4 linked regions of the Homo sapiens genome follow. The protein of the gene in region 1 interacts with the protein of each later gene in a biochemical or structural test. Each region holds a gene or a part of one and is shown in the gene's direction. Other genes may lie near its edges.

Region 1 (7,026 bases):
TGTGTGTGTGTGTGATTAAGTGATGACAGATTGGTGTCTCATATAGGAGTTAATAATTTTAAAAAATGAGTTGCCATTAGATTAATGTTATAGTGGAAGGCGTAGAGTGCATTCCTGGGATGCTGGCCATCCACATGGCCATCTGACTTAGGAGAGGAGCATCCACCAGTATTTGGTCCATGGATGCTCTGTTGATCAGGCTTGTTCATTTATGAGCAAGTGCTGAAACCGTCTGGAACCTGGGGAAGTCCCAGATAAGAGAACTGTATTATCAGAGTCAGGCTGTTTTGGTAATAGTGTTTTTTCTGTGAAGAGTCATGGTATAAAATATTATTATGAATCACTTATCAAAATATTTTTATAGAAATGTTGATAATTCAGTAATACTTCTTAGGTGAAATTCTGTTTTATTGTGATAATTCAAAGATTGCTGATGAAATTCGTGATTCCCATCATTACATTTGTGAATCCATTTCACAAATATATTTTGACCACCTCTTGGTTATCAGGCACCAGAGATGTAATAGCGCCTTAAGTTCAAGTTGTTTTTAATAGCCCCGGATCAAAAACAAACAAAAAAGCACTTAGATTGTTTCAAAGATGTATTCGAGCCGTCATATGCTAAATGACGAGTTAATGGGTGCAGCACACCAGCATGGCACATGTATACATATGTAACTAACCTGCACATTGTGCACATGTACCCTAAAACTTAAAGTATAATAATAATTAAAAAAAAAGAAAAAAAAAGTTTGTCAAAGTATTATCAGAGGTTTGCAGCTGTCTATCTCAAGGCAGTGGCAATTTCCTTTGTTATGCTGTGGTCCCTGAAGTAGTTGAAATAGTGACTTTTGCATTTTGTAAACCACAGAGAGTCAACACTTCAAAGAAACATACTTGATCTTCCTTTGTATAAGCTGTTTATACAACTTTGATTATACTTGAGAAGTGAGGTATTGTCCAATGTTTATACAATTACAATTCAGGACTTTACCAAAAAAACCCTGGCATATGAGATGTTCGTTCTGACTTCTGAGTTTATAGAAGTTTCAGTTCTGAAGTTTAAGAGGAGTTTCACTTCATCCCTTTTCATTTTGAAGGTAGGAGTTTTTATGATGTCATTGGTATTTAATTTTTAGGACCTTTTGATTTTCAAAGGTCACTGTGATCATTTTGTTCTGTTGATATCAAGTTAAGGCAGTTTTGACTTGGAGCAGTTCTCCATTTCTCTAGTTTATAGTCCTTGATATTCATAAACTATAAGATTGTCCTTCTGAGATCAGTGTTTATTGGTAGATACACTTGATGTGGTCAGGGTTTTTGTTGGTTTGTTTTATTTTTTGTCTTCTAATTTTAATCTGTTTTATTTAGGAAGGTACACATTTGTGTGTGTGTGTGTGTGTGTGTATGTGTGTGTATTTAAGTCTTTTGTTGTAATAATTGATATTATCCAGCTAGTCTAAACCTTTTTTTTTCTACAAAGAGGTCTCCAGTGTGACTACTTCCATATTTCACCGTTTCCTCAGCTCTCTATTCTTTGTTGTTCTTTGTAGTTTCAGGAAGCCATTGTGTAGACTACACACACACACACACACACACACACACACACACACACACACATATTCCTTGGCAAGTTCCTTCTTTAAGCTCATTAGTAATTTTCAGAGATCTCAGAGTTTTAAAAAAATGTTAATTTATAACCTCCCATGTTTGTTATGATTGTCTAGCATAGTCAGAAATCTGAATTATCTGGAAATTGTGAGCAGCCAAGTACCTTTGATTTTTGGGACTAGTCAAAGGTATGTATCTACTCATAGGAAGGTCTTTGTGAGAATATCTGAAACTCACAGCTGCCTAGTGATTTTTCACTTTTGATCATATCTAAATGTACACTTTCCACTTTCTGTTTCTGTGATACCTACAGAATTTATGTGTTTTGACAAACTTACAAAAAACTTGCTAATGGAAGAGCAAAGGTTTCCCGTGTCTTCCTTAGTCTGCAGTCCAATTCATAGTTATGTTTCAATTCATAGTTACCTTACATTAAACACCTTTTCTGAAGAGATAATTACATCATTTTAATTCATGAAATCTCAAGATTTAAATAGATTTTGAAGGATACATCGAATGCTTGAATCTACAGCATTTCAGCCACATGACTTTTTTTTTTTTTTTTTTTTTTTTTGAGACAGTCTCTCTCTGTCACCCAAGCTTGAGCGTAGTGGCGCAATTTCGGTTCACTGCAAACTCTGCCTCCTGGGTTCACGCCATTCTTATGCTTCAGCGTCCTGAGTAGCTGGGATTACAGGCATGCGTTACCACGCCCAGCTAATTTTTTTGTATTTTTAGTGGAGACGGGGTTTCACCATGTTAGCCAGGATGGTCTCGATCTCCTGATCTCGTGATCTGCCTGTATCGGCCTCCCAAGAAACCTTGTTTCTTAAAACAGTCTTAACTAGTGAAGTCTGTATAGAGAAGTTCCTGAGATGCTAATTATAAAAAAAAGATATATTTTATGTTCTAGTTCCTAGCAAATAAAATGTATTTTGTGTTTATATTTCTTTATTCACAGGCAGCTGAAAAAGTTGGATGAAGATAGTTTAACCAAACAACCAGAAGAAGTATTTGATGTCTTAGAGAAACTTGGAGAAGGGTGAGTGTAAAGAAACTATAGGTAGGTCATTGGGTCCCAGTCTTTTTCCTGCCCCAGAAGAAGCAGAAGGATATGAACCTTTCAGCATTGTTCTAGGTGGGGTGGAAGGTAAATTTACAGCTTGTGATGTCCTTCTTCGCTTTACTCCAATCCCTATTATAGACAGATTTAGTGATTCCTGGTCTTTTTAACACGAAGAATATCTATTGTTTTCTCTTTTGTAGGATCTGTATGATTTTATCTACTTAACAGATAGCACTAATTAGATTAAAATTCTATAAGAAACTTTTTAATTTGCTGTTCATAATTTCTGATTGGTATGCAATAACTGTTTCAATGAAAATCAATGTAATTTAGTATTTTAATATTTGCACCTTTGTGAAATATAGTAAATAAATTAAGCACTATCACCACCTTCACAGCTACTTAGGAGATCCACAATCCTGGGTTGGGAGCCAGTGGATTTCCTGAAACACAGATTTGTTAATGCGTTTATAAAATACTGATGAAATGATATTAGTAATGTGCAGTGACCATCATTGACTTTCATGATACAATTAAGTTTACATAATTTTTATACTTTTATATATCATTTTAATTCAATCCTGTGTATTTATTCCTTCTTCTGTAATGACCAGGAAATTAAAATGTTAATGACACCATTTCTTAAGTTTTTCTTGTTAATTTTTGAATAGGCGATACAATCATATGATTCAAAATTTAAAAAAATATTAAGACGCATACAATAAAAAAAAAAAAAAACTGCCTCCTACCTCTCTCTGTCTCTTAGCCACCCAGAATCACCAAGGGTAGCGGCTTCTTGTGTGTCTTTCAGAGACAGGCTATGTGTGTGCGAGCGCACACTCGTGTTTGTGTGTGTGTGTGTCTGTATTTTTAATCCCTTGGGAGTATTTCTGGATCAAGGGAAGACCTGACATACTAACTTGTAAAAACAACTACTGACTGATGACTATATGCTCTTTAAAATAATTTCCTTTATGTCATTAGATTATTTTTTGGGTTTAGTATTTTTTATGTTAGGAGACAGATTTACAACGTTAAACCCAATCCTGGATTACATGAAATGGTTTTTTTATGATTTACCTCCTTGTAAAAAACATGAGTCATCGTCTTTTTGTAAGTTGGAAAAATACTCTTTGGAATCCAGCAAGAAATCAAGCAGAGAAGGGAAGTAAAAATGACACACCAGCTGTGCTGTGAAAAGACAAGTCCAAGATGAATCTGAAGACTGCCAGTTGACTGGCATCATTAAAGGTATGGGGAAATGACAGTCCCTCTACATCTGTTGCCTGCCATTTTCAGCTTTAGCTTGCCATCCTTGCTATTTTCCCTAAGGCAGCAAGGCTGTGACCTTTAATCTAACAATGCTCATAAGTTATACTTAGAATAAGTTCAAGACTGATAGGCATAATTGACTATGTAACTTATTTCTCTCATTTCTAATACAGTTTGCTCTTACTACTACAATGTGAGGCTGACCTGGGTTAAAATCCTTGCTCTACTGTTTACTGGTCATAATAGACAAGTGGGCTTAAGCAAATTGCTTACTATTTTGGAGGCTCACAATCCTCATCTGTAAAGTTGGGATAATAATATATCAATTCATAGAGTTGTGTTATTACCTGAGGTAATTGGGGTAAAGTATAGTGCTTATCACAATAATAAATGTTCAGTAAGTGGCAACTATTGCTATTCTATTTTAAATGTATCAACTGAAGCATTTTCAAGACCTCATCATGTCAAGTCTTAAAGTATTTTTAGGTGTTGTTATAGGTAGCTCTGAGCTGATTGGGTTTGTGGAATGTCAAAGGAAGACTATAGACAGAGAATATATCAGAAATATAATGTAAACAAAAAATAAGCTAATTATGATTTTTTAAATTGTATTTTATTTATTTGTTTGTTTATTTATTTTTGTAGAGACGAGGTCTCACTGTGTTGCCCAGGCTGGTCTTGAACTCTTGGCCTTAAGTGATCCTCCTGCCTCAGCCTCCCAAAGTGCTAGGATTAGAGACGTGAACCACTGCACCTGGACAAATTGCGTTTTAGATCTATGGATGTCTTCTGCAAGGAATGTGGAAATTTCCCTATGAAGATATCACCAGGGAGAAAACAAAGCTTCAGATCTTTCTTCCCATACTATCACCTTATTGTTCTTCTAAATAATACCAGATTTCTGGTATTTCTTGGATTTCTGTTATTCTGACTGAATGAACCTAAGCAAGCCTCATTTAACTAGGAATATTTTGAAGGAAGACCTTCACTGCACTTCTTTTCCAAACATGTGACACAATGCTATTCTTTTTTTTTGAGATTAAGTCTTGCTCTGTCACCAGGCTGGAGTGCAATGTCACAATCTCGGCTCACTGCAACCTCCGCCTCCCAGGTTCAAGCGATTCCCCTGCCTCAGCCTCCTGAGTAGCTGGGACTATAGGCACACACCACCACGCCCGACTTATTTTTTGTATTTTAGTAGAGATGGGGTTTCACCATATTGGCCAGGATGGTCTTGATCTCGTGATCTTGTGATCTGCCTGCCTCAGCCTCCCAAATTGCTGGAATTACAGATGTGAGCCACCACGCCTGGCCAATGCTATTCTTAAATTGTTCGGGAGGATGAATGGTTTGTGAACTCTCACTGACTTGTATCTTGTGAAATGAGCTATGGCTAAAAAAACTGTTGGATTCTGGAGGCTGCAATCATTCTGTGTTATGAGGATCATATGGATCTGTGGCAGAGTAGAGCCAAAGCTCCAGACCAGGATGAGTGGAGAGCACTTGGGAAGTGTTTTCAAGTGGAGCCTAGCACCTTTTTTCTTCTACTTAAAGTTGTACACATTGACTCATTTGAATTTTTATCATAGAATGATAACAAAAGCATCTTGCCCATGGTTTCATAAAAAATGAGTGCTATTGTTAAGACTTGTATCTGATTAATTTGGCCTCAGATACTGTGGTATTTCCATTTTTCTACATAGATCCTTGCCTTGCATGGCTTATGTAAAACACCTACTTCTCCATTCTCTGCTGTCAGTTGTAATTCATTGAATCATCTCATTTTGTTGTAGGGAATCAAGTTTTAAGGGACTTGCTTGTGAGTATGATTGCTGAAATCTTCTAACCACCCCCTATCCCTGCCTTCAGATTACTGTAGATGCAGTATATGGAATCAGGAATCTTAACTTCATGTGAGCTATTGGAGTTTTCCTTGCTATCAGGATGCATAGGGAGGTATGAAGAGTGTTCTGGTCAAGATTGCTGAGTGAGTGTATGAAGAGAACTTTCTAATATATAAGAATAATGAGTGAAAATTATTTTAAATATAAGGATATATAGACAGCTATGGACAAGGGATAGGAAAGAAATCTAAATAATCAGCGGAGACTAAAGCATGCCTTATCCTTGTCAGGAGATTGCATTTGAGCTTCCTGCATGAAGTTGGGGGCTGGAACTCGGCTCTCCATCTGTGAACTAAAGCTGAAATAAATTTGCCTGACCACAACCAGAAAGTGTCATTTGCCTGTGGCCTAGGGAAAAAATGGATATACTGGTTCGATAATAGGAACTGAGCTTGGATTGTATTTAAGTATGGTATCTTGAAGGGCAAAAACCCCAAACTCTGAATATAAGACCTGGTTTAAGTTGTATATCCCAGACTACTGTACTGAGAAAACCATGAAATCATCGACAGTGAGTGTGGTATAGAGGAAAATCATTCAAGAGAAAATGAAATCCATGCAAGGAAATCTACTGCCATGAGATAATCAGCAGAATGGGAGAATTCACACTGAAGGAAAAAGAAATAATGAAGCAATCTCAAAAACAATTTAATATAATTACAATTTTCAAAAAGATCAAGGAGGAGATAACATTTTTAAAAGGACATCAGATTATTGACATGATTATTAACATATTTGCCCAAAGGCAGATAAAAAGTTGGGAATCTTGACAATGAAAACTACAACAATTGAAGTTTTAAAAGCCCAATAAATTGGATAAACAGTAAACTAGACAAACTGAAAGGAGAATTTGTGAATTGAAAGATAGAAATGAGACTGATCACAACATGCAGAAATACAGTGTTGGAAACCAGGAAGACAACATAGATTGAGGAGGTCTAATACAGTTTTGGTAGGAATTCTAAAAGAAGATCCTAGAAGTGGTAGAGGAAATAATCACATAATAATCCTGAGAGTTTTTCATTCTTGAGGAAAGACACGAGCCCTCAGATTGAAGAAGTTTATGAAGTGCCAGATCAACTCCTAGTTACATTACAGTAGAATAGTAGACTGTTAAGGACAAAGGAAACCTTAAAAACTATGGGGAGATTACCCATGGAAAATGATAATCTG
Region 2 (7,745 bases), on another chromosome or scaffold:
GGTAGGAGAATGGCGTGAACCCGGAAGGCGGAGCTTGCAGTAAACCGAGATCGCGCCACTGCACTCCAGCCTGGGCGAAAGAGCGAGACTCCGTCTCAAAAAAAAAAAAAAAAAAAGAATTGTGATACTAATTCTTTATGTTACTGGGGGGATGATTCATCTTACATAACAGGAGTTTAGGAACCCTACTAAATTGCTAATATTAAGCAATTATATAATATCTTCAGATCTGTGTAGACATTACACACCCTTATCCTTCATAGGAAACAACCAAAGTTTCTGCCTAAAGGACACTTAGGAATTTACCCTCCCATATTTTATTTTTTATTTTTTTGAGACAGAGTCTCACTCTGTTGCTCAGGCTGGAGTGCAGTGGTGCGATCTCAGCCCACTGCAACCTCTGCCTCCCTAGTTCAAGCGATTCTCCTGCCTCAGCCTCCAGAGTAGCTGGGATTACAGGCACACATCACCACACCCCGGTAATTTTTGTATTTTTAGTAGAGATGGGGTTTCACCATGTTGGCCAGGCTGGTCTCAAACTCCTGACCTCAGGTGATCCACCCGCCTTGGCCTCCCAAAGTGCTGGGATTATAGACGCAGGCCATCTCGCCCAGCCCCCTCCCATATTTTAATAGCAAAATTTTGGAGACTTGAAGAGCTATAATTGGCATAATTATTACATCTTCCTGAGACAGATTAAGTTTATCTTGTTATGTGAAGAAGAAGAGTGAGCTGGAGAGTAGACTAGAAGTTCCTCTCCTTTTTTCCTTTTTTTTTTTTTTTTTCTGAGGCGCCATATGTAGGGCTTATTTCCATTTTGGTTGTCTTTCTTGGATAATCTTTCACTGAATAGTTCACCCTTTAAAATTTTACATGCTTCCAACGAGGAAGTCAACATAGCATAAAGACCTTAGCTGTCTTTGAAAGTAACAATCTGGCACGAAATTTTATTTTTATGCTAATCATGATTTTATATAATGCTGATATTTTAATATTTTCTTTAATACTTGAATAAAGAACAAACTTTTTAAAGAAAGAAAATCACCAACATTTCTCTTATCCTATGAAGGTAAGTTTTTATTTTTGCATATTCCCTTCTGCCTACATGGCAGAAAACTCCAGGACTGAAAGACACTTTAGAAATCAAAGGGTTTGGCCGGGCACAGTGGCTCACGCCGGTAATCCCAGCACTTTGGGAGGCCAAGGTGGGTGGATCACGAGGTCAGGAGATCGAGACCATCCTGGCTAACACGGTGAAACCCCGTCTCCACTAAAACTACAAAAAATCAGCCGAGTGTGGTGGCAGGCGCCTGTAGTCCCAGCTACTAGGGAGGCTGAGGCAGGAGAATGGCCTGAACCCGGGAAGCGGAGCTTGCAGTGAGCCGAGATCATGCCACTGCACTCCAGCCTGGGCGACAGAGCAAGACTTTGTCTCAAAAAAAAAAAAAAAAAAAAAACAAATGGTTCACTTTCTTCATTTTCAGATGAGACAACTAAGAACTCAGAATGCTATGAGGTTAGCCCAGGGTCATACCTTATAGGCTCCACTAAAATAAATTTTAATACTAAATTAATTTTTTAAAAAAGTTGTTAAAACATGAGAAGCTCCCTAATTGCCAGTTTTCTCCACTAAGAATGTAACTGTAAGGGGAAAAAAAAAATCTCTATTATGGAATGCAGTATTAGCATTATTGAAGGCAATGTCTGGAGAATTACAGCTCCGTAGAACTACAGCAAATCTGAATTCCTTAATAAAAATTCTCAGAAGTCAAGGAATTTCTAGAAAACAAACATGAATTCAAAGCTTTTAGATTTAAGGATTCAAATTCAAAGTTCACATATTTGTTGTGCATTGCTATAGCTAATGCTGCCTGCACATTGTTGATTCTGGAATGTACCCTCCTTGATAAAAAGGCAAATTAGTTGTCTTAAATAGAGCACCTAATTAAGGCTTTCTCTCTGCTATAATCCACAGAAATTAAATAGCATTGTAAAAGGGAGTACTCTCTAAGGAACACAGACGGCTTTCAAAACAACTGTTAGAAACAGTCTGGACTCACATTAGTGGGATTCTGAATGTTCCGTAGCAGTAAAGAGCCCCAAACGGAAATTGAGGCTGGCCTGGTGGCTCACGCCTACAATTGCAGCACTTTGGGAGGCCGAGGCGGGCAGATCACTTGAGGCCAGGAGTTCGGGACCAGCCTGGCCAACATGATGAAATCCAGTCTCTACTAAAAATACAAAAAATAGCCAGGTGTGGTGGCGGGCGCTTGTAATCCTAGCTAGTCAGGAGGCCAAGGTAGGAGGATCGCTTGAACCTGAGAGGCAGCAGTTGCAGTGAGCTGAGATAGTGCTACTGCACTCCTGCCTGAGGGATAGAGCAAGACTCTGCCTCAGGGGGGAAAAAAAGGGAATTGAAAACTCCAGTTCTGATGCTATTCTGTCATTAACCAGGAATGTAATCTGAGACAAAACACTTAATTTTTCTCGTTCCTTTTTGATGTTGATGAGGTGAGCCTAGGCAATCTCAGAATTCTTTTTCAACTATAAAATTCTAGGATTCTTTCCTCCGCACATGTGAAAGGTGTCCCCGTACTTCAGGCTCTGGGAAAACTCCAGGTGTGAAGAGTTGCCTTTATTAACAAGATGCTAATATCCTTTTGTCCTTCTCTGAGGTAAGCCTTAGGCAGAAACCTGGCACTTCTTTGGCTCCCCCTTCCTCCTTCAGCTCCCGCCTTCATACCCTGATGTGTAACAAAACCCCATTGTGCTCTCACTTAAGTTTCATCACTCTTTCTTCTCCCTGCACACTATCAACGCTTTAGGACTCGTCCTTATTTCTGAACCACAGGAACAAGTAACTGTTTTTCTAATGTTTCTCTCAGAGTACACTCTGCTTCTAGTGAGTTCCAATTCTGTTTATTAAGATTTTCATACCCATGGCAGTGATTGATACTCCCACACTCCATATTCAATGTCAGCAAATTTGGTTGGCTTTCTTTAAAATATGTCTAAAATATGTCCACTTACCTCTCCACCTATTATTGCCTGGGTCCAAGCCAGCAATAACTTCTGACTGATCTCCCTTTTGCCCTTAGCTCCATTGTCTACTCTCCACACAGCATCCAAAGCAGTCCTATGAAAACATTAACTCAGATCATGTCACTCCTCTGCTCAAAGTAACATTCCTTACAATGGCCTACAAAGCCCTAGGTGCCGTGGCTATTGTTACTCTCTAACTGCATTCCCCATTCGTCTCCCCGTCTTTTCCAGTACATAAACCCTCTTACTGTTCCTCCAATCTGCCAGGAACATGGCCACTTGCAGCGACTTTGCACTTGCTGTTCTTTCTGCCTGGAATATTGTTCCTCCAGTTAGCTGCATGGCCAATTTCCTCACTCTGTCACTTAACTCCAATGTCACCTCCTCATGAGCCTTCTCTGGTCCCTCTATTACCCTCTCAAAAATTGTGAGTCCTCTCTTATTTTCACTTCATCACTTATCACTATCTAACATAGTATGTTTTGCTTATTTTTTGTCATTTTTTTCTCTTTCCCATGACAGTAGGGATTTTTGTCTGTTTTGCTTATTGCTCTATCACAAACGACTAGCGCAGTGGGTAATGAGTATTTCCTGGTTAATGAATGAATTGTGGGAGATCTGCACCAAGGGAACATATGGAGACAGACACTAGATCAAATGTCTCCTTTGTTTGCTCATGGTAAAACATTTGACCATCTTCTTAATCTTACGTGGTAAAAAATTCCATGTCTTTTGTTAATTGTGATATATGTCTTAGATCTCTTGTGAGATGTTTTAGATCTCAGGGAAAGCATTCCTCATTATTAAAGCATTAATTTGGTCACTAGGGGATGAATCCAATCTTATTTTCCAAATGTTATCCTGTACATTTGGCAGTCTTGCTAAGTTATATAGAAGGAAGTAGAGTCTATTATTTTAGATAGAAAATTCCCGGTCCCGACTCGCAGTGGTCAAAGTCTTCAAAATTCTAAGATCATAACACATAACGTCAGGAGGAAATATGTGGCTATTAATCATACTAATGATAGTGATGATGCAATAAAATAATTGTAATATGCTAACACCAATTGTATCTTAAAAAGAGGTACTGGAAATTCCATCTTGCATTCTTCCGTTTTTTCCTGTTATAGAAAAACGCACTCCCTGATACTCAGTAGAGGATCAACTTATTTCTAGTTAATCAGCATGAACGTTTCCAGCAGAATAGATGCTTTGGTGTAGCACTTGCCTGGGAGTCATGGTTAGCATTCCGCATTTTTTAGAGAGCTGAATTCAGCAGCCTAGGAAACATTAGGAAGAACACCTTCAAACAGGGAACAACGTCTTGGGGGGAAAGAGAGTCACTGCCTCCGCTAGGGATCCCGAGGGGGTACAAAAGCAACAACAATAAAAACTCGTGGAGAGTAGGTTCCACGACATGCGCATGCGACGAACTCCCGCACTCAGCGGGGCAGGTTTCGTCCTTCATCTTCTCAGTCGGCAGGACCTGCTTCTCGCTGAGGATGAGTGAGGACAGCCGCAGCTCGGCGGGGACGGCCCGGTAGCCTAGAGCGCCGGCACCCGAGTCCCGCCGCCGGAGCCGCGCCTGGAGCCGCGGTGGGGGAGGGGCAGCGGCGGCCCGCGCTGCGTCGAGCTTCCCAGAATTCCCAGCGGCCGCGGGGAAAGTTTACGGGATGTAGGCGGCGGCGGCGGTAGTGGTAGCGGTTATTCGGCGGCCCGCGGCGGACCATGGCCCTGGCCCTGGCCCGGCGTCGCTGGGCTTTCCTCACGGCGTCCCCGAGCAGCGTCGCAGAGCGGGCCGACTTCCGGGAAGGAACTGACCAGCGACTGAGCGGCGGCCGGCGCGCTTAGCGCCCTGAACATGCGGCAGTCCCTGCGGGCGACCCCGGGCTCCGGACAGGCGGCGGCGGAGGCGGCGGCTCGGGAGGGAAGGAGGCGGCGGCGCCGGCGGAGGTGGCGGCGGAGACGGCCGGCGCCCGGCGCGGAGCCCTAGGGAGGCAGTTCAGCGCGGCCTCGGGCCTCGTCGAGAAGGATGCTGTCCCGAAAGAAAACCAAAAACGAAGTGTCCAAGCCGGCCGAGGTGCAGGGGAAGTACGTGAAGAAGGAGACGTCGCCTCTGCTTCGGAGTGAGTGTCAGGCGGGGCGTGCCCACACCTGGCCCAGGCGGCCAGGTGCTCCGGGGACCCTGGCGGGGGCGCCGGCGGGTCTCCAGGGCTTCTCCTTCGTCCTTGGTCGCGTGAAATACTGGTTTTGAGATTTTCTTGTGTCTGAAGTGGTATTCGTTGATTGAAAGCCCATAAGAGTAAGAAACTTGGGTTAGTCCCCCCCGCGCCTAACCCCCCCAAGAGCACCCCCTAAAAATAACAGACTTCCTCGCCCCACCAGGCAGAGTTGTTGGTTTTGATTACTGGAAGAGAGAGTAGGAAACATTTAAATTGCTTATCACCTAATGCTATAGGAGTAAAAGTAATTAGACAGGGACACTTTTTACTCTTTTAGATGCGTCGAGATGTGCGTCATGTTTGCAAACATTGCGGGTGTCTCTCGACTGTGCTGCAAGTTGTGCGAACTCTGGGGCAGAATTCCTTAGTCCTGCTGCCGGATGCAGACTTGAGAAGGTGAAAAGCATACCGTCGTTCTTGTAGCCGCCACCCAAAGCCTCATCACTCTTACACAGCAGAGCAGAGAGCCAAAAGCCTTTGTATTTGGCTATATTCGTGAGATTCCAAGAAGGCAACTCAAAATAATTTCTATCGTATTAGAGAACCCCCCCCTCGAAAAGTTTTTTTTTTTAATAGGGTAGATCCCACTCCCAATCCCCACCTCCGGTCCCCCGCTGCTTTTCTTCTTAATGTAAGTATTTGATTTTTGAGTTGAATCTCTTGAATTTTTAATTCTTGTGTGTTCAGGACATTTGTGAGGCATGGAGCTGGTATTTTGGTGCTCTTACTGCGCCCTGGGCCCTTTGCTTAAGTTTCCTTCTTGGAAGCTGGTAGTAACCTTGTGACTTAAGTATTACCTCATATTGTAATTGGGAAAGTTAGGTTTCTAGTATTTGCCCAAGATCACACAGATGGGAGAGCATGTTTTTCCATCATAACCACATTGTCAGCCTTCCAGATTTATGGTGGTACTTGCAATACTTTCAACAAAATATATGTCAGTTGAGTACATCAGTAACTCGAAACTTGATTTTTAAGTTGTTTTTTTTTTTTTTTAACAACTTGATTTTCAGTCACACATGCAGTTAGGTTTCTGGCTGTTTTTAAGTGATAGCTTGCTGTTTGCTGCAAATAAAGTTTATCAGACATTACTTGAAATCGTGAATTATGTTTGTCACACTTTTTATTATACTTTAAGTTCTGGGGTACATGTGTAGAACGTGCAGTTTTGTTAATGTTTGTCACAGTTAAGCAAATAACTTTTGATCTACTTTGTTTTGTTGTCGTTACATCAAGTGTTGAGCCTTATTTATTCAGATATTTGTTTCTGTCCAGTGTTAGTTTCTGAAGCTTATTAATATGAGTGTCTCCAATATTGTTTACTTGATGAATAATAAGAGGGTCTGCATATTCAGGTTTTTGTCTTGTTTTAAAGGTATTTGCTTTCTAACTGGGAATGTCTTAAGCTGTTTTCAAGTTTCGTGTTTAAAAGTACTGTATCCTAAAAGCTGTTGTTCTATTATCTACTATTTTGAATTATAATTACATAGTTTCAGGCTTGGTTTTTTGAGCCACTTCTACATTTGTGTGCTTCTTTGAAATGAGAGCTTTTTATTTTCAATTTTCATACATAAATTTTTGGCTTTCTAGCTTTTGATTACTGTGCTAGTGCTAGGTAATTCCAAGAGAAGAAAGAGCTACTAATTTTTTAATTTTTAAAGGAATCCACTTTTACATATTTGGGAGTAGCATTAAGTTCTATTTTTGAAATTGTGTTTGCTTCAAGAAGGATTTTTGGCAGTTTCTAAAATGAAGTGAGAACAACAAAATAAACTACTTAACTAGAAACTATCAATTTGTTATATTATTTCCTATTTTTATACATTAATTCATGAGCATTTCATTAATGTGTAGTTCATAGATAAGATTATTGATATTTTATCATATTATGTATGGTAGTATGCAGAATACATTTTATTCTAGCTGAGCTTTTACGCATAGTCCATTAATGCAAGTTATATAAATTCATTTGATTGGGAAAATATTAATCTTCCTCAATTTAAAATGCCCAAGTACCATCCTAAACCAAAATTTAAAATTGTGTTTTCTTAAGTTGACTGACATTTTGATTTTGGGGTGGTAGACATAAATGAACAAATTTCGAAAACTTTTGTTACTTAATGATGAAAGGGTAATTTTATCCTTTGTTTTATTGTAGATCTTATGCCTTCATTCATCCGGCATGGTCCAACAATTCCAAGACGAACTGATATCTGTCTTCCAGATTCAAGCCCTAATGCCTTTTCAACTTCTGGAGATGTAGTTTCAAGAAACCAGAGTTTCCTTAGAACTCCAATTCAAAGAACACCTCATGAAATAATGAGAAGAGAAAGCAACAGATTATCTGCACCTTCTTATCTTGCCAGAAGTCTAGCAGATGTCCCTAGAGAGTATGGTTCTTCTCAGTCATTTGTAACGGAAGTTAGTTTTGCTGTTGAAAATGGAGACTCTGGTTCCCGATATTATTATTCAGACAATTTT
Region 3 (7,026 bases), on another chromosome or scaffold:
TCAAGTAATCCTCTCACCTTGGCCTCTCAAAGTGCTGCGATTACAGGTGTGAGTCACTGCACCTAGCAGTATTATTATTATTATTTTTAACTAAAAAGTGCTCCTGTTGGATGTCAAATGCTTTAACTTAGAAAACTTCATTTTATACATAACATTTCAGGAAAACTCTGAAAAGTGCTGCTATAGAAAAGCTGAAAGAGTATTTTGGGAATAAAAATTCTGGATTGTTTGCACACAGGCATCAATGCCCTGGTCTTTAGGAGGGAGGCATGAGTGTGCTGCCAGTTCATTCTGCTCTTTACCATCACTGTCTGTTCCTTCCTCCAATTGTTTAGGTATTTCTTCTTCTCCTAAAGATGTACTTTCTTGGCATGAGCTTGCTTTTTAAAGCAATCCTGTCAGAAGAATCTGTTGCATTTTCTCACACAAATTTGATCAATGGTGATTTTTATTTTTTGATTGCCATATACACTTTCCCACCACTTCATATGGCAAACTATTCAGTGGCTCTTGTGTCCTTGTGGGGGCATAACATGTTATAGATGGCTATGCCTTTTTTGGATGGTAGCTATAGCCATAACAGTCTCTTCTGGAGGAACTTTTATGACATGCTGGTCTTCAAGATTTTTGGCTTTCCTATTAAAGGCTTTTGGTCAGGAATATAAATGGCTATTTCTCCTCTCTAAGAGCATCCCTGTAAAGGTTGTTACCTCCATTAAGCTACCCAGTCACAAGAGGACCTTATTTTGGATCAGCCCACTTGGATGTGGGAGTTGGGAGGCAGCATTGGATGTCAGGGAGGAGAGAGTGAAGAAAGGGAAAGAGAAGGGTGGGCGGAGCCCCAGGAAGGTAGCTTGGTTTTATAACTGACTTCTGGATTCAGTAAAGCTGCATTGAATGGTGCTGATGAATAAGTTTGGCTCAGGCCCTGCTGGAATGCTTTGCTGTTCTCCCAGTCCTCCATCTCCACAGATAAACACATCACACACAGATCCACAGACACAGAGACTCACACAGACAGCGAAGAGAAAGACACAGAGAAAGAGACACACACACTCTGCCAAAAGCCAAGAGCACCAGTGTCTTTTTAAACTAATATGTCAAAGGGAAAATCCAGGACTCAGTAGCAGGTTTGATTTTGGGGGCCTGAAATCACCCCAAGCTTGTATTGAGAAAGATTCCCCTCCACTCTCAGTGACAAGCTGATCTACTCCCTTAATGATGTAAAGCCACAAGGGCTTTAACTGAAGCAACCATTATACGTACAGACAGGTGAGTGGAGATTTAGATAATTTGGGTGATTTACCTTTTAGACTCCTGGTGCTGAGAGCTGAGCTCACATTCCAGTTCTTGGCACAGGATCCTCTCACTGTGCAAAAGCCCCTTGCTTGTTTTACGTTTTTCTCCTTCATTCCCCTCCCAGCACCCCCCAGGCCCCTCTCCCCCAGAGGAGCCTTCTTTCCAGTGCAGGATATGTTCTTGCATATGTATGTATTTTGTTAAAGATGTTGAGTTACTTTGTTTGTTTTTGATTTACATAAGTGGTTCTGTGCTATAGATTTCATTCTTTTTTTATTCAACATTAGAGCTTTTTATTATGGAAATTTGCAGGCATTCATAAAAGTCAGAAGAACCTTAACATTTTATTTGTGAGATCCTTGTTAGTGCAGGTTTATCTAGTGCGTTGCCTTGACTGCTGCTTTGTAGGGCTGGTCTTTTATGTGTCTCCTACTTTTACTTACCCATTTCCCTAATGATGGATGCTTAACTCACCTCCACTCCTGCTACCACTAGCAAACATCCTGTATGCATTTTCTTTCTTTTTTTTCTTTTTTTTGAGACAGAGTCTCGGTCTGTCGCCCAGGCAGGTGTGCAGTGGCATGATCTTGGCTCACTGCAGCCTCTGCCTCTTAGGCTCAAGAGACTCTCCTACCTCAGCCTCCTGAGTAGCTGGGTCTGTGTGCATTTTCTTAATGATCTGGTTGAGAATATCCCTAGGGTAGTGGTTCTTAAAGTATGGTCCACACCTGGCAGCATCGGCATCAACTCTGAACTGTTAGAAATACAGATTCTTGGGTCCTAACATTCCAGAATTCCTGAATCAGAAACCCTGAACTGTGTTTCAGCATGCCCAGGTTGGAGATTCTGATACATGGGAAAGTTTGAGAACCGCTGCTCTAAGGGTATGTACTTAGGAGTGGGATGGCTGAGTAATGGTGTACAAACATACCTGTTTTTACTAAACACTGCTAAATTACTCTCCAGAGTTGCTCAGCTGCTTTCTGTTCCACATCAGTGCACAAGGGTTCCTGATTCCCCACGTTCTTACTCAAATTTGTTATTAACCAACTTTCTAGTTTTACCAATGTTTGGTGGCTGTAAAGTGGGATCTCATTGGGTTTTCTTTTTGTGAACTTATATGATTTCTTAGTAAATTTGAACTCTTTTAATATATTCATTAGTGATTATAATTTCTTTGACTAGCCATACTTGCTTTTCCTAATGTGGTGATTTGAAGATTTTTTTGGTATATTCTAGATGTTAATCTCATCCTGTCTTCTGTTTATCAACTTTGTCAATGGTAACTTTGAGAAATTTTTAGTTTTGATATAGCCCCAGTCCATTAATTTTTGCCTTAGGTTGCACTTTAAGAGTATAAGATATTTTTCCTTACCCCAAGATTACAAAGATATTCTGTATTCTGTCAGCTTTCCAGTTTTACCTTTCACATTGAGGGCTTTATTCTATTTGAAGTTCATCTTCATATATGGGAAAACAAAGGAATCTCACATTATTTTTTTCCTTTCCATTCTGTGAGACAGTTTTCCTAAATCATCTATTAAACAGTGTATTCTTTCCTTCATATAGTTTTGTGGAGCCACTTTTATCATACCTCAGATTCCCACAGACACATATTAGTTTACTTTTTCAACTTTATTAAGAGTTATTAAGGCTGAGCGTGGTGGCTCAATGCCTGTAATGCCAGCACTTTGGGAGACTGAGGTGGGAGGATTGTTTGAGTCCAGGAGTTCAAGACCAGCCTGGGCAACATGGAGAGACCCTGTCTCTACAAAAAAAAAAAAAAAAATTAAGCCAGGGCCAGGTGCAGTGGCTCACACCTGTAATCCCAGCATTTTGGGAGGCTGAAGCAGGTGGATTGCTTGAGCCCAGGAATTCAAGAACAGAGAACAGCCTGGTCAAAACCCTGTCTGAACAAAAAATACAAAAATTAGCCTGGCTAATTGGTATAGTCCTAGCTACTCGGGAGACTGAGGTGGGAGGATTGCTTGAGCTCAGGAGGCGGAGTTTGCAGTGAGCCCAGATTGCACCACTGCACTCCATCCTGGGTGACAGAGTGAGACCCTGTCTCATAAATAAATAAATACATAAATAAAAATAAGAGTTGTAACTTATATAGGTAAACTAAATCCATTCAAAGTGTACAGCTTGATTACTTTTGACAGATGTACATACCTGTGAAACCATCACAGTGAAGATACAGAGCATTTCCATCACCCCAAAATTGCCCTTGGGCCCCTTTGTAATCCCTTTGTCCCCAGACTTAAGCAACCACTGATATGCTGTCACTGTAGTTTAGTTTGTGTTTTCTAGAATTTTATGTAAATGGACCATACAGTATAGTACCATTTTGTGTCTGGTTCCTTTCATTCAACATACTGATTTTTAAAAATCTTTTTAAATTATGATAAAATACACATAACATAAAATTTATCATTTAACCATTTTAAGTGTATAATTCAGTGGCATCAAGTACATTTACATTGTTGTCACCACTATGCATTTCCAGAACATTTTTTATCACCCCAAACTGAAACTGTCCCCATTACTTGCGACATACTGATACCAATCATCTGTCTGTTTTTATGCCCCCCCAATTTTTTTTATTATAGCATTGCAGTGTGTTTTATATGGCAGAATGAGCCCCTACTTTTCTTTATACTTTGACTTGGTTATTTGTGGATGTTTATACTTCCATATGCATTTTGGAATGCTTATTAAGTTCTCAACAAAGTTAGGAAAGTGTGATGGGCATTGCATTGAATATATAATATGATTTTTCTGTCTAATATTGTAAGATTTTCTGTCTTATTGTAATTCTGTCCGTGAACATGGTCATCATTTCATCTTTTTAAAAATGACTTTTTAATAGAGTTTCAAATTTTCTCTGTCATGATAACATTTTTTATAAAGGTTGCTTTGAGGATAATTTGAATCTTGGCACCTTAGTCTCCACATTAGAGGGAGGCTAATAGGTGTTTTGGGACAGATCTTTTAAAATCTTCCTTCATTTATCAGCCTGTAATGACATTGGTGAAATTACTCACCCCTGGTAGGCCCTGGTTCCTCTTTCCTCAAACTGGAATAACAACACCCCCCGCCGCTTAGGGAGGCTGCTGAAGGGTTTAAAAGATATTGTAGGAGATGCTTGGAATACAGATCTTGAAACAGAGTTGTTGCTTAGGTTATGTTGGTGGAATACCTCCCCTAATGCTGGTTTTAAATAGCATAAACTGTCTGGGTATGGTAGTTCACACCTGTAATCCCAACACTTTGGGAGGCCGAGGTGGGAGGATCACTTGAGCCCAGAAGTTTGAGGCCAGTCTGGGCAACACGGTGAGTCCCTGTCTCTACTAAATAAATAAATAAATAAATACATAAAATTAGCCAGTTGTGGTGGTGTGCACCTGTAGTCCCAGCTACTTGGGGCGGGGGGGCTGATGTGGGAGGCTTGTTCGAGCCTGGAGGTTGAGCCTGTGATGAGCTGTGACCATGCCACTGTACTCCAGCCTGAATGACAGAGCAAGACCCTGTTTCAAAAAATAAATAAAATAAATCTCATAAACTTAATACTTTTGTCTGTTTTTAAGGGTTGATAATAAAGAAGAGTCAGAAAAGCAAAGTGAATTAGCTAGCCAATAAATGTGTAACACTCTCTAAGACTACATTTGCAAGCCCATGTTTCTGCCTAGTTTTGTTGGGTTTCACAAAAAATATGGGTACTTCCAAAGAATTTTACAGTCGACTGGGGAAGAAAAGGCTAATGTGCAAGAAACAATTAGAGAACTCTATGTGACAGATGGTATATAATTAGAGGTGAAGTGGTGCAGTGCCAGGGGAGTTATGAGAGGAGAGAGATTCTGCTCTGTGAAGTTTTGATTTGGCTTGGGTGGAACTAGTTTAGGGAGGGGAGAAGGCGCTGGAGAAACCAAGTAGAATTATCATTTCTGTTGGGAGCCTTGAGGGCCCAGCATTGAATCCCATGACAGTGGATATTGTGCCCAAACATAAGTATCTCAAAATCAGTGCTGTGGGATTGGTGATAAATAGTTAGAAGATGCCTAGATAAGCAATAGCTCTCTGTCTTATAGTACAGTGGTGAAGAGCCCTGACCCTGGACCCTGGGTTTGGATCTCAGCCTCATCGTGTAGAAGCTGTGGGACCTTAGGCAGGTTATGCAAACCTTCTGCACCTCAGTTTCCCCAACTCTCTGGTAGGTGTCATAACAGCAGCCATCTTACAGGGTTATTGTGGGGACTATATTAACATTTATAAGGTACTGAATGCCTGGCATGGTAACCACAACATAAATGTTAGCTGTTATTATGACAACTTTTGTTAATATTCATCACCTTCCTCCTGTACCTCTCTTGAGGTGTGTGAGGCTTTATGCCCCAGAATTGGATGGCTTTTGTCCGGAAAGACCTGGTTGGAGGCTGTACAAATTTATAGAATGGCTTTTTCCACATGTCGGCAGGCATTCAGTGGGCGCTCAGGTTGCAGACTGAACAAGTAAATACTGAAAGACAGTGGAGCCAGGTGCATTCTCTGTCATTCCTGGATGTCCTCACTCAGGGCTCTGGAATTGAGTGGGGAGAAAAAGTCAGGTGGTAAGCATTCAGGAAGCGAATTTTATTTTGCTATATTCCTAGTTCTGATTAGACCTTTTGGCAGAGATGTCGGAATCACAGGGATTCACACTTGTTGATGGCTAACTGCATGCCAGCCACTTTCTAAGTCCTTGACCCAATGAAATGGATATTGTCATCATACCTTTTTTGAGGACAAAGAGAGTGGGACAGAAGTAATTTGCCCAAGAAAGTAGGAAAAAGAATGCCCTGGAGTTTAGTGTTTGGGGCCTTTGCCAGGTGGCAGAAATAACAGAAGTAGGTACTGTTGGTGGAGAGCCAGTACCTTTACATAAAGCGTTGTAATACACAGGTTAGCCCAGCAGGGCATTCCCATGACCTCAGATGTTTATCAGGTGAAGCCAGTGGCTCTCAGATTTCAGCGTGTATCAGAATCACTCGAAGGCTGCTTACAACGCCCAGGGCTGGGACCCACCTCTGCCAGAGTTTCTGAGGCAAAGAGCTTGGGGCAGGTGGCAGTGGGCAGTTGACATGTCTAATGTGTTCCTGGATACTGTCATGCTGCTGGTCTGGGGACCACTCTTTGCCAACCACTGCCATCAGCAGTGCCCATGTCAGCGAGGAGCCAGCTGCTACTACTTCTAGTTACAGTCAGGTGGGATGATTTCAGATTTAGACATTGGAAGTGCCTTCCGCCTCATGAAATAAAAACTGAACTCATGTGGTCCTGTTTATCTAGGACAGCAGAGGGGTGTCTGAGCCAGTCCAGAGCAGAAACTTGCTTTTCCTGCTCACCAGTGGTTCTGGCATGGCTCAGGAGAGATGATCCCAAGGTGGAGAGAAAACTTGGAAATATAAGTCAGCACTCATTAGAAGCTTGGAGTGCCATCATTACATCCCATCTTAGGAAGATGGCCTCATTTATTTTTGTTATTTTTCATTCCCCCTTCCATTGGCAAAAAAAAAAAAAGAAAGACTTCCTGTTCACCACTTATCCCCATGGAGGAATTTAGGCACAGACAAATTAAAAGTATATTGAGATACATAACCTGACAGTGGAGAGGCAGAAGATAATCTTATTTGCCTAGTTTAATTATAGCAGAAAACTGTGTTTGTAGGAAAAAAGAGCTTTGTACAG
Region 4 (7,026 bases), on another chromosome or scaffold:
ACCACATTCTTAGATATGACACCAAAATACATGCAGTAAAAAGAAAAATAGACTAATTGGACTTCATCAAAATTAAACTTTTGTGTATCAAAGAACATTACCAAGAAAGTGAAAAGAATGGAAGAAGGTACTTGCAAATAATACATTTGATCTGGGTCCAGTATCCAGAATATATAAAGAACTCTTACAATTCAGCAACAAAAAGACAACCCAATTTTAAAATAGGCAAAGGACTTCTTTCTTTAAACAGAAGATATAAATGGCTAAAAAGCACATGAAAAGATGCTGAGCATCACTCGTTATTAGAGAAGTTCAAATCAAAACCACAAGTGGCAGTTAGATGTAGAATTACTGTGTGTCCCAGCAATTCCATTCCTAGGCGTATATCCAAAGAATTGCAAACTGATATTCAAAAAAACCAAATGTACACACATTCATAGCAGCACTATTCGCAATAGTCAAAAGGTAGAAACAAGCCACGTTTATCAGTGCTTGAATGGATAAACAAAATGTATATCAATACAATGAAATATTAGCCATGAAAAGGAATGAAGTGCCAGTACATACTACAGTATGGGTGAACCTCAGAAACATTATGCTAAGTGAAAGAAGTCAGATACAAAAGCTTATATGTTGTATGATTCTATTATATTAAATATCCAGAATAAGTAAATCCATAGAGATAGAAAGCATATCAGTGGTTGCCTGGGGCTGGGCGAAAGGGAGAGTGGGGAGCAACTGATTAATGGTTACAAGGTTTCCTTTTGAGGTGATGAAAATGTTTTAGAATTAGGTAGTGGTGATGGTTGCAGAACATGATGAATGTGTTAATTGCCATTAGTTTTTTACTTTAAAATGGTTAGTTTTATGTTATGAGAATTTCACCTCAAAGAAAATAGATGTCTTGAAGAGAGAATAGGATATACAAGTCTGAAATTCAGAGACTTTCAAACCGGAAATTGTAAATATGGGTGTTCTCAGTTTATAGAGGGTATTTAAAACCGTGGTACGGGTTAAGGTTATCTAAGGAGTGAGCAAAGAACAGATCTGAGGATTGAGTCCTGGGGCATTCCCAGTGTTTTAAGTTCCGAGACATGGGAAAGAACTCGCTCAGTACAGTGAGGAGTAGCAGTTGGGAACAGAGGAGAGGAGCATCTTAGTCTGACTTGGCCTTGCCCCATTATGCGTTATCTTCCTTTTACCCAAATTTTAGCCCAAAGACATTCTTACAGGTTTATTTCACTTCCATAATGAGGGCACCCCTAGTCAGTTCTGGACCACAGGTCATTTGTATTAATATGTAGTGAATCCTGTTTTGACTACACTCCTTAAGGGGAGTATAGTCTATAGGGGTTTACAGTTTCAGATTTGAAAGAAGTGTTTAGATCTAGTGAAATCTCACTTGAAATACTGGAATTTTCTCAATAATAGTGACTTTTATCATTTTTAGGGTTATTATCCCTTTTGAGAATCTAGCATAAGGACTCTTACCTGAAAAAAAAAAAAAAACAAAAAAAACATAGACACAATTTAGCATTCGAAGACAAAGATGTTTATGGGCCTTTATAGGCCCTGTGCATTCCTGACAGATGGGCATCTTTGCCCTTGCTAAAACACCTCTAATGATAGTCCTCCCCTTTGTGAGAAGACACGTGATGATTCTGGACGCTTTGGCTGTTGTTTCTTCCTTGTATTGAGTGGACATCTGCCTCCTGTAATTGAGGCCTTGGAGGTCCTAGTTTTGTTCCCAGGATCACACGAAGTCTCTGCCCTTTTCAACGTTAGACTCCTTTGAATGCTTCAAGACCAAATCATGAATTTCTTTTTAAAAAGATGTTTATTGAGATGCAATTCACATATAATTCACCCATGTAAAGTGTACGATTTGGGGTATATACATTAATTTTTAAAATTTTGGTAAAATACAACAGAATTTGCTAATTTAACCTTTAAGTGTGCAATTCAGTGGCGTTAATTACATTCACAGTGTTGTGCAACCTTCTCCACTATTTTCAAAACTTTTTCATTTATCCCAAACAAAAACTGTAACCATTAGGCAATAACCTCCCATTCCCCTGCCCTTCCAGCCTTTGGTAACCTCGAATCCACTTTCGGTCTTTATAAATTTGCCTGTTCTAGATTCCTCATATTGGTGGAATCATACAATATTTCTCCTTTTATGTCTGGCTTGTTTAACTTAATATGTTCAAGGTCTTTTTATCCAAATCAAACCTCCTCGTACTACATGATTTTAAGTTCTACTGTATTTGATAGTTTCCATTTCACTGTGCCCAGTGTTATTTATAACAAAGAAGTAGTTTCCAGAGGTGTTATTGAATTAATAACAGTATTTTTAGGGTTATTAGTTCTAACCCACCCCCCCCCCACCTTTTCTTCTATAAACAGGTTGTAGGGAAGGTTGATAAAAGGTGACATTGCCAGTCTAGTCTTCAAATGCTAACATTGTTAACAAACAATAAAGATGAATATATTTAATGCTATTAAAACAGTACATTTCCCAGTCATCAGTTATAAATTCCATGCATGCTTTTAGAAACAGCTATTTAGAAATAATTTAAACTTCAAGAGTGTAATTAATAAAGTGTATGGTGTGGAATCACATACCATAATAGTTCTTATTGTTTTAGAAAACGTGGCATTAATATGCTTCTTTTTTAAAAAAGTGAAATAATCAACCCAGCTTAGGTCAGTGACACGGTTTAAGTAAAAAAAAAAAAAAAAAGCCTAAGTCTTGATTGCCCCAGGGTGGCTTGCCTAATGCCAAGGCTTGCCACTGTGAGGCAGCTCACAGTGGAGCTCTTCCTAAACCAGGAGATGGTACAGGTAGAGCTAATGAATTGCTCTGATTAGAGTGAGATGGGCGTTGAAGCTCTCTTCTTCCTCCTCAGGCAGCTAGTACTAACTCACCCAAGATGGGTGAGGGCTTCCAAGGTTCTTCTGGCAATTTAATGAAGGCTGATTGAGAGCTGGTGTGCTCTACTTTGTGAAATGTAAAACAGTGGTTTTCTGGGGACTCGTGAGGGTGCCTGTTTGGGCTGTTATAACAAAATACCTTAGACTAGGTGATTTTTAAACAACAGAAATTTATTTCTCATAGTTCTGGAAGCTGGGAAGTCCAAGATAAAGTCACCAGCAGATTTGGCATCTGGTGAGGGCTCACTCTTGGCTTCTTAGATGGTGCCTTCTTGTTGTGTTCTCACATGGCGGAAGGGGCAAATAAGGCTTCCCCGTCATGACCTAAGTCATCTCCCAGATGCCCCACCTCCCAACACCACTGCACTGGGGATTGTTTCAATATGAATTTTGAGGGGATGCAGACATTCAGACCATAGCAATCCCCAAGATCCTTTCAGGGAGTCCACAATGTCAGAACTATTTTCATAATAACACTGATATTATTTGCATTTTTCATATTTGGTCTCTCAGGAGTGGACAGTGGAATTTTTGGGTTGCTACATAACATGATGGCATCATTGCTTTGATAAATTTTGTGTTGTGTTTTCTAGAATTTTCTAAATATTATTCAGATCTGAGTGTTCAGTAGACATTTTCTCAGAAATAAACAAGCCTGCCACTTCAAGGAGAACAACTGATAATTTGAGCATTCAAGTTGAAAATTAGAATTTTGGAAAATTTATGTGCCACTGTGAGCTTGACAGCTCTCTAATACTTAAAGACTTTTCTGGTGAGATCACTGATGATACTGATGTGTTTTTTTTTTTTTTTGTATAATGAATTGCATTAACATTTATATGGTATGTATAACTCACTGAACTAATATTTTCCAAATGACCAATTTATGGTTTTACAGAGACATACATGGATAAAAGTGCAAGATAGACTATGGGATTTTTTATGTACTAGGGCATGAAAAAGCTCATTGGTCTGGTCTCAGATGTCACATTTCAACTAATCTTGAAGAAACTACCACTTGTGGAGAATTCACAATTATATGGAAAAAAGAGGAGTATTGTAATAACCTTTTTAACTGCATATCGTTATGAGGCTAGATTTTCTTCATATATTTCAACCAAAACAACATATAGCAATAGATTAAATACAGAAGCAGATGTGAGAATCTAGCTGTCTTCTGTTAAGCTGGACGTTAAAGAGATTTGCAAAAATGAAGAAGTGTCATTTTTCTCACTAAATATTTTTGTTTTGGAAAATGCAATTTTTTATTAAAACGTTATTTGTGTTAACATAAGGTTGGTATTTTAATGAATTAATAAATATTTTTAAAATTTTTCTGATAAATGTTGTTAGGTAAAATCCACATAAAAGATCTTTGGAGTCCTCAATAATGTAATAGTGCAAAGGAATCCTGGGACTATGAAGTTTGAGAATTGCTGCTCTAAAATGTGAGCAGCAAATTTCAAACTTTTTTTTTTTTTGAGGGGTCTTACTCTGTCACTCAGGCTGGAGTGCAGTGGCAGGAGCATGGCTCACTGCAGCCTCAACCACCTGGGCTCAAGCAATCTTCCAGCCTCAGCCACCCAAATACCTGGGACTATAGGTGCCCATCACAACCCCCGGCTAATTTTTGAAAAAAATTTTTTTTAGAGACAGGGTCTCACCATGTTGCCCAGGCTGGTCTTGGACTCCTGAGCTGAAGCATTCCCCCCTTGTTCAGCCTCCCAAAGTCTTAGGATTGCAGATGTGAGACACCACGCCCAGCCTGAAGTACTTTCATATCAACTCATTTAATCTTCCAAACAATGGGGTGAGTTGTAATAATAGTACTTCTTTTTCCTTTTTTTTTTTTTTTTGAGACAGTGTCTCACTGTCACCCAGGCTAAAGTGCAATGACACGATCTCCAGTCATTGCAACCTCTGCCTCCTGCGCTCAAGTAATTCTCCTGCCTTATCCTCCCAAGTAGCTGGGACTGCAGGTACATACCACCATGCCTGGCTAATTTTTATATTTTTTGTAGAGACAGGGTTTCGCCATGTTGCCCAGGCTGGAACAGTACTTACGTAGTGTATTCTTTGTGACAGGCACTGCTCTGTTATATACTTCTCTGTTATATATACATTATTTCATGTTACCCTTGCAGTAAATTTTGAGGTAGTCCTTGCTTTACAGATGACCAAAGTAGGTACAGAGAGGTTAGCTAACTTTTTTAAAGGCCCTGCAGAAATGTCTAAAACCTTAAGAGCAGGTAGGACAGGATAAAATAGGTATTACCCGAACTTTTTTGACCGTGGAACCCTGTTTTTTTTTTGGAGACAGGTTCTTATTCTGTCACCCAGGCTGGAGTGCAGGAGCACAATCATTGCTCACTGCAGTCTCCATCTCCCAGGCTCAAACAATCCTCCCATCTCTGCCTCCCAAGTAGCTGGGGACCATAGGCGCACGCCACCACACTTGACTAATTTTTTAATTTTTTATAGAGACAAGGTCTCCCTATATTGTCCAGGCTGGTCTTGAACTCCTAGCCTCAAGTGATCCTCTTGCCTTGGCCTCTCAAAGTGCTGGTATTATGAGCCACCATGCCCGGTCCCTTTTTTTTTTTTTTTTTTAAATGTAACAGTTCTGACTGGGCATAGTCACTCAGGCCTGTAATCCCAGCACTTTGAGAGGCTGAGGCAGGAGGATGGCTTAAACCCAGGAGTTTGAACTTAGAATGAGCTATGATTGCACCAGTGTGCTACAGCCTGGGCGACAGATTGAGGCCCTGTCTCTCTCTCTCTTTTTTTTTTTTAGAAGCAATTCTTTGAACAGGATTCCTTGGAATACACTTTTAGAAATGCTGCATTAGTAAGAAACCAATGAGGGAAAAACATCAAAAACAAAACAAAGAAGTAATCAGTGATGGTTGACTAGTGCTGAAGGTGTTTAAGGTGTGTACAGAAAGTGGCTGCACGCAGTGGCTCACGCCTGTAATCCCAGCACTTTGTGAGGTTTAGGCGGGAGGATCGCTTGAGCCCGGGAGTTTGAGACCCACCTGGGCAACATAATGACACCTCTTCTCATTACTTTAAAAATGAAATAAAAGATAGGCCAGGCACGATGGCTCACGCCTGTAATCCCAGCACTTTGGGAGGCCGAGGCGGGTGGATCACCTGGTCAGGGGTTCGAGACCAGCCTGGCCAACATAGCGAAACCCCATCTCTACTAAAAGTACAAAAATTAACCGGGCATGGTGGGGGGTGCCTGTAATCCCAGCTACTCAGGAGGCTGAGGCAGTAGAGTAGCTTGAACCCAGGAGGCAGAGGTTGCAGGGAGCCAAGATTGTGCCACTGCACTCCAGCCTGAGCGACAAGAGCAAGACTCCACCAAAAAAAAAAAAAAAAAAAAAGAAAAGTTAAAAATGAAATAAAATCTGTACAGGAAAGTGACCGTTGGATTTGGCAGGATAGGGTCGTTAGTAATTTTCTTGAGCAGTTTCAGTGGAAAAGGGATAGAGTAGGAGCCTCCTTGGCATTGATTAAGGAGACAGTACAACAAGATAAGTGGATGCAGTCCAAATGGATGCTTTAACAAGTTTTGCTATAAAGAGGATCAGGATTAAGAGAGTTTTAAAGATGGGAGACATTAGGGCATGTTTACACTGTGGGAATAATATAGTAAGATAAATGTAGGGAGTTGAGATATTATACATGGAGAGGTGGAAAGTCTTAAATGCCTGGAGTTTTCTGTGTGCATACATATTCATACACATACACCCACATATATGTACACATGTGAGTCAGGAAAACTTTCCCTCAAGAAATGACATTTGCGCTAAGATCTGAAGGCTGAGTCATAGTTAACTGTGCATAGGAAGTGTATAAAAAGCAGCAAGAAGAGTGTAGTAGGCTGAGTAAACAGCGCAGGGAAGGCCCCAGGATAGAAGTGAACACAGTTGTTTATCCTGAGAGTAATGAGAAGCCACTAAAAGCTTAAGCATGGGAGAGACATTCTCAAATTGGCTTTAAAAAATGCTCTGCAGCACGGAGAAGGGGTTAGAGAAGGGCAGATGACCAGTTTGGAAGAGATACTAGTAGACCAGGTAAAAAATT

Evidence for each region.
Region 2: the proteins of STK4 (region 1) and SAV1 form a complex in vitro, tested with the Homo sapiens proteins (one study listed by IntAct).
Region 3: of the proteins of STK4 (region 1) and SGMS1, one has a biochemical effect on the other in vitro, tested with the Homo sapiens proteins (one study listed by BioGRID).
Region 4: the proteins of STK4 (region 1) and THAP12 form a complex in vitro, tested with the Homo sapiens proteins (one study listed by BioGRID).

The regions. Positions count from the first base shown.
Region 1 is NC_000020.11:44,969,506-44,976,531, forward strand, and holds part of STK4 (serine/threonine-protein kinase 4), read left to right. Parts: exon of another isoform or gene 1-1,100; intron 1,101-2,572; coding exon 2,573-2,653; exon of another isoform or gene 2,654-3,415; intron 3,416-3,777; exon of another isoform or gene 3,778-3,928; intron 3,929-4,594; exon of another isoform or gene 4,595-5,828; coding exon of another isoform or gene 5,829-5,905; exon of another isoform or gene 5,906-5,907; coding exon of another isoform or gene 5,908-5,936; exon of another isoform or gene 5,937-6,179; intron 6,180-7,026. UniProt on the Homo sapiens protein: Stress-activated, pro-apoptotic kinase which, following caspase-cleavage, enters the nucleus and induces chromatin condensation followed by internucleosomal DNA fragmentation.
Region 2 is NC_000014.9:50,665,297-50,673,041, reverse strand, and holds the start of SAV1 (protein salvador homolog 1), read left to right. Parts: upstream 1-4,735; 5' UTR 4,736-5,074; coding exon 5,075-5,168; intron 5,169-5,541; exon of another isoform or gene 5,542-5,660; intron 5,661-7,422; coding exon 7,423-7,745. UniProt on the Homo sapiens protein: Regulator of STK3/MST2 and STK4/MST1 in the Hippo signaling pathway which plays a pivotal role in organ size control and tumor suppression by restricting proliferation and promoting apoptosis.
Region 3 is NC_000010.11:50,613,944-50,620,969, reverse strand, and holds part of SGMS1 (phosphatidylcholine:ceramide cholinephosphotransferase 1), read left to right. Parts: intron 1-7,026. UniProt on the Homo sapiens protein: Major sphingomyelin synthase at the Golgi apparatus.
Region 4 is NC_000011.10:76,371,108-76,378,133, reverse strand, and holds part of THAP12 (52 kDa repressor of the inhibitor of the protein kinase), read left to right. Parts: intron 1-7,026. UniProt on the Homo sapiens protein: Upstream regulator of interferon-induced serine/threonine protein kinase R (PKR). May block the PKR-inhibitory function of DNAJC3, resulting in restoration of kinase activity and suppression of cell growth.